Regions from separate parts of the Homo sapiens genome. Here region 2 is linked to region 1. Evidence: fine-mapped expression QTL. Tissue or cell type: whole blood. Region 1 holds a variant in brackets; the other region holds the start of a gene. All regions are shown on one strand. Distances are from middle to middle.

Region 1 (2,754 bases):
GGGCTGGAGATGACAGGTCACCAGCTCAGCAAGGTCCACAGCGCTGCTCTCTGGGTAGGAGGAGACGGCCTCTGCCGGCCTGCAAGGCCTGTTCAAAACACCCTGAGCCTGGGGTATTTAAGGTGCTTCGTGCCTGATTCCTTACAACTCACTCAGAGCAAATGGTTTAGACAAGCACCAATCTTGAAGGAATTGAAAACACTTTGCTAAATAAAATGAATCATTTCAGATTCCCAAGATTAACTGGCGTTCTGTAGGTCGGCACAAAGTCGTGGCTTTGCCATCTGACGGAGGACGCGCAGCGGTCGTCTCTGGCTGGGTAGACTGAGACCTGAACGCTGAGGGACTTAGGACCAGCAGTGCCGTCCAGGCCTGGCTGCAGACGGTGAGTCACTCTGCCGCTCCAGGATCAGTCAAACTGTGCAAGCCAGTGTTAACTTTTGAAGTTTTGGCGTGGATGAGAGTGTTCAGTGGCTTCAGTGAAGGGTTCACGCTTTGGAATTACAATTTTTTTCTTTTTTTTCTTTTTTTTTTGAGACCGAGTCTCGCTCTGTCGCCCAAGCTGGAGTGCAGCCGCGCGATCTTGGCTCACTGCAACCTCCGCCTCCTGGGTTCAAGCGATTCTCCTGTCTCGCCCTCCCGAGTAGCTGGGACTACAGGCGCGTGCCGCCACACCCAGCTGATTTTTTTTAATTTTTAGTAGAGACAGGGTTTCACCATGTTAGCCAGGATGGTCTCGATCTCCTGACCTTGTGATCTGCCCGCCTCGGCCTCCCAAAGTGCTGGGATTACAGGCGTGAGCCACCGCACCCGGCTGGTTTTTTGTTTTGTTTTGTTTTGTTTTTTGAATCTTCAGTCACCAGAATTGTTTTTGTTTTAGTAAGGCTGTAAAAGCCAGAAAGGGGGAAAAAAGTAATATATTTTCTCTAAGCTCTGAACGTGGGGGTTTCTTGGGCCAAATTATATTATACCTTCATTTGTTTACTAGCATTGTTGTTTACATATTTTAGAATCATATTTGTGTCTTTTTGAATAGGATTTTGGGGTATCTAATACTTTAAACAAATTCTCATACTGCCTAATAGTAAGCTCTTAATAAATCCCTCTTCAATGGTTAACTTCAATGCTATAAAAATATATACTTTCCTGAATATTTCTTACTCTGTGGTTAAGTACAGAGGTGGCATCTTTCAATAC[T/G]GGAAAAAACAAGTTATATCACTATTTCCTCCTTGCCTAATATTTCCAAATTCATTTGTTTCAAAAAGAAGTTCTGCCTTGAGTCTCTCCTTCCCGTCACGCCCAGGGAAGATAATCTACCCAACACAAATCAGCTCACTATGGGCCACTAAACAGCTCAGCAAATCCGGTGGCACCACCCCGTTGGAAATGTTATTTCAGTCTCTGGAAACAAGTTCTGGGTGTGCCCGAAGGATTGGCATTAGCGGGAGGGGACTCACTTCTCGGAGCGAGAGGCTGTGTGGGAGAGCAGTGGGAAGCCTGAGAGGACATGTGAGCCGGAGGGATTATTTTTGTCATAAAACATGCTTTGTCCAAAGGCTTGGAGGAAAAAAGCACTGGCTTCATTTCTGCACAGTCATTGTTGTTAAAATAGCACAATTGGTGCCATGCAGAAGAATGTGAAGATTCTGTATCATCCTCCTTGCAAGGGAGAAGGTGTTTGTGAGCTTTACATGCCAATGTCCACCATGAAGGCCAGAGGGCATCGGAGACTTTTTTTTTTTTTTTTGAGACAGAGTTTGACTCTGTCACCCAGGCTAGAGTGCAGCGGCACAATCTCGGCTCACTGCAGCCTCTGCCTCCTGGGTTCAAGTGATTCTCCTGTCTCAGCCTCCCAAATAGCTGGGCTTACAGGCACACGCCACCATGCCAGGATAATTTTTGTGTTTTTAGTAGAGAGAGTGTTTCACCCTGTTGGCCAGGCTGGTCTCGAACTCCTGACCTCAAGTGATCCAATATTGTTGAGCTGGATCAGCAGGTGTTAGGCATCAGAACTGCCCTTGAAGGCTGGTATGGTGGCTCACACCTGTAATCCCTTGCACTTTGGGAGGCCAAGGGTGGAGGGTCGCTTGAGCCCAGGAATTCAAGCCTGCGCGACAAGAGCAAAACTCTGTCTCAAAAAAAAAAAAGAAAAAAGAAAAATGCAAAAACCAAAACAACAACAAGAAAAAAAAACAAGAACTGAATGTGTTTTCCTTTGGAGAATGGGACTGGTGGAGGCAGAGTGCTGTTCTGATTTATGAGTATTTGAAGACTTAGTTGATTTTATAATTATGTACAGATATTATTTTGACAAAAACTAAAATTAAATAGGAATGCCAACTGTAAACTTACTTTTCAATCCAAATTTTGGTAATAATTATGCAAAATTCAGTTCAGAATGACTTAATCCAGTTGCACCCTCATAAAATACCTGTGTATACAGCGGTCATCTGGGAGAGTTTATTGAGTCACCATCAGCTTACTTCTGAAGAGATTCAGCGTCAATTATTGTTACTTAGTTCCTTATTCTGAACCTAAGCACAGTACTGCAAGTAACTGCAAAGCATGTCTGCCAAATTATCAGACTTTTATTCCATTTATTCCTTCTGCTTTTTTCCAAGAGAAATGAGTAATAAAGTTCCCTTAGCAACCCCCTTCTTGTCAAGCCACTTCCTCCCCTCATGTGAAACCTGGTTTCAGCAAGCCAGGGACCCACAGGGGTTTGTCACGAACCCGTCCATGGATAGACACTGT
Region 2 (2,612 bases), 78 kb before region 1:
CTGTCCAGCCCATGGGAGCCGGGGCGCATTACCTGGAGAGGCAGCGTCGCCCCTCTGCGCTGCCCACCCGCCCTTTTCCGCGGCGGCGCTCCGCAGCTGAGGTGGAGCTCGAGGTAACCCTCTCCCAAGCGATCGCTGGTGGCGGGGGCGGCGACCGGCGGGGCGGGGCAGGGTACTGCCAGCCAATTCCGAGCACCGGGGGGTGCGTGCGCCCGGGGCGCGTGGAGCAGCGCCAACCGTGCACTCACCAACCCACCGACCCTCCCCAAAGCCGGGGACACAGGCGTGGCTCCAGGTGGCTCTCCTGGCGCCCCCAGCACGGGCGCCCCCATGGCACTGGAGATGCACGGAAGAGAGAGAAGGAGAGAGAAAGAGATAAAAGCAGAAAGAAACAGTGGGAGAGGAAGGAGGTAGAAACAGAGAAAAACAGAGACATATATATCGAAAGAGAAAACAGGACAGAGAAATAGGTTATTAAGTGAAGCGAGGGGATAGGAATGCATAGCAAGGCGGGAGAGGAGATGGAAACATGCAGAGAGAGGAGATCCGGACGGTGAAAAGGGGCGGAGGCGCGAGCGGCCGGGTCCCTGGGCTGCGCTCCGGCGACGGCCGCCCGAGACGGGTGTCGAGGACAGGGATCGCGGAGGATGTGGATCCCCTCCCTGGCCTGCCCAGGCGCGCGCGTCCCTCCGTCTCGGGGTACGCAGCCCGGCCGGGCGCACTCGCCGTTTCCGGGCCGGCGGGGCAGCCACCGGGACAAGGGCCACAGCGCCCCCGCCGCCCGGCCAAGGACGCGCAGCCCGCGCCTCCGCCCCGCCCCGCCGGCGCGACCCGCACGGGCGCGCCCCCCGCAGAGGGGCGTCGGCACAAAGCCGCCCCACACAATGGCCCGGCCCGGCGCAGCCCGCCCTGCAACCCGGCTCCGCGCAGCTGCACTCACATCTGGGCAACGAGGGCCTGTGGTCCACGGGCACCCAGATCTTCTGCACTCGGCTCTGCGTCAGTTCCAACGGCATCTTCGCGGCTGCGCCCGACGGCCCGCCTCCCGGGGCCGAGATCCCGACGCTGGCAGGAGAGCGGCCGCCGACCCCCGGAACAAAGGAGGAGAGGGGGGCGTGCGCCGGCGCGCGGCCGGGCGTTTCCTGCGCTGCCAGGGGAAACGTGCTTTGGGCTAAGTTCCGGACCCTCGCCTGTGCGGGGCTCGACGTGTGCTGCGAGGGTAGCGAGGCTGGGGATGCCCGGCACGGCCGGCTCGTCCGCTCGGAAAGCTCTGGGATGCTCGGGCGCAGTGACAGCCGCGCTCTCGCCACCAGGCCCTGCTGCTCGCCTCCTCTCCGGCTTGGCTGGGATGCCCCGCGCACCGCCGGCTTTTAAAGAGTCCGGGCTGGCCGCAGACGCGTACGTCAGCCTCGGGGCGGGCCGCATTCCTTGGGTCCCAGCCCCCTTCCACGTGGGGAGGAGGGTGGGCGAGCCGGGAAGCAGCCTGCGAGCTCCCCCTGCGGGCCGGCGACGGCGGTGCACCAGCTCCCGCCGCCCTGCCCCGGGCCTGGAGCGCGCCCAGCCCTGCTGAAGGGTCCTGGCTGCTGTTATCCCCTCGTCCCGTTGTCCCCTCGGGACGTCTGGCACAGCTTCCCCGACTAATTCCGGCCCCTCACCTCAACTGTGCTGGCCGGGAGGAGAGCAGAGACGCAGTCCTGCCCAGTGTAGACCGTGGACCCCGCAGCCGAATCCCTTGGGAAGCTGCTTAAAGTGCATCCTACCAATGCAGCTCCTTTAGGGCCATGGAGCCCCAATACTCTGCATTCCTAACACGCGCTGTGGGGCAGGCGCAGTCCAGGTAAGGACATGGGCCAGGCTGCTCCCTGATAATACCCGTGAGCCCATCCCCCGCCACGACCCGGGCGACCCGCGGGGAGGAGGCTTCCCTGATCCTCCCACCTCACCTCGTCCTTGTCCACTTTGCTGAATCCCTTAGAAACCTGGACTTGAACTGAGCCTTGCTCCCCTCCCCTAGCCCAAAGACTGGGAACCTTGAGAGGCCCGCGGTGCTGGGTACGAGGAGGGGGCGGGAAAGCCCCGGGGAGCTGGACTGAAGTGGACTGGGGCTGGGGGCAGCTGGCATCTGGTTTTCACACTCACCATGTACACCATTCAATAAACCTTTATCGCCCCGAGTAGAAGAATGAATAAAACTAGACCCATTTCGATCTGCAATTCATTACCTAAGTCGAGGGAAAACTATTGGGGGCGGCCCCTTATTAGGCAGACTCCTAAAATTCACTCCGTTATCCTGCACACCCTGCAGCTCTGCCTCCCCACTTTTTGGTGCATGCGTGCCCCGTCTCCTTTCCCGGCCCTCGCAGTTTGCACCAGCTCGCGACTTGTGACAGTCGTGCAGTCAGGTCAGAGGCGTGCGGGGAAGATCTGGGTTGCTTTTGGTGGGGAACCGCCGCCCGCGCCGGGACGGATGTAACTTTTGCAAACGAAGCCTCAGTACGGGAGCGCTGCGCCGCCTTGCAGAGAGGTGCACACTTAGCGCTGAGGCTGGGCTGTGATTGGAGGGAAGGCGGCGCTCGCTGAAACCTACACCGCGGCGGAAAAGTCTGCGCAGA

The links. PIP is the estimated chance that this variant, and not a neighbour inherited with it, causes the effect.
Region 2: PFKFB3 starts here. The variant in region 1 is fine-mapped to the expression of PFKFB3 in whole blood (TOPMed, PIP above 0.99).

The regions. Positions count from the first base shown.
Region 1 is chr10:6,123,587-6,126,340 of GRCh38, reverse strand. LOC101928080 (a long non-coding RNA gene) reads left to right here. Exons shown (of 3, transcript XR_930619.3): 2 at 230-385. Among named protein-coding and RNA genes, the nearest start is that of MIR3155A, 27 kb to the left of the region's middle. The variant T/G (reference allele first, on the strand shown) is at 1,198.
Region 2 is chr10:6,201,665-6,204,276 of GRCh38, reverse strand. PFKFB3 (6-phosphofructo-2-kinase/fructose-2,6-biphosphatase 3) reads right to left here and starts at 1,345. Exons shown (of 15, transcript NM_004566.4): 1 at 941-1,345. The coding sequence starts at 1,016. PFKFB3-AS1 (PFKFB3 antisense RNA 1) reads left to right here and starts at 1,520. Exons shown (of 2, transcript XR_007062045.1): 1 at 1,520-1,837. RefSeq lists silencers at 193-272, 503-1,012, 1,133-1,242, 1,293-1,622, a cis regulatory region at 1,151-1,682 and an enhancer at 1,616-2,120.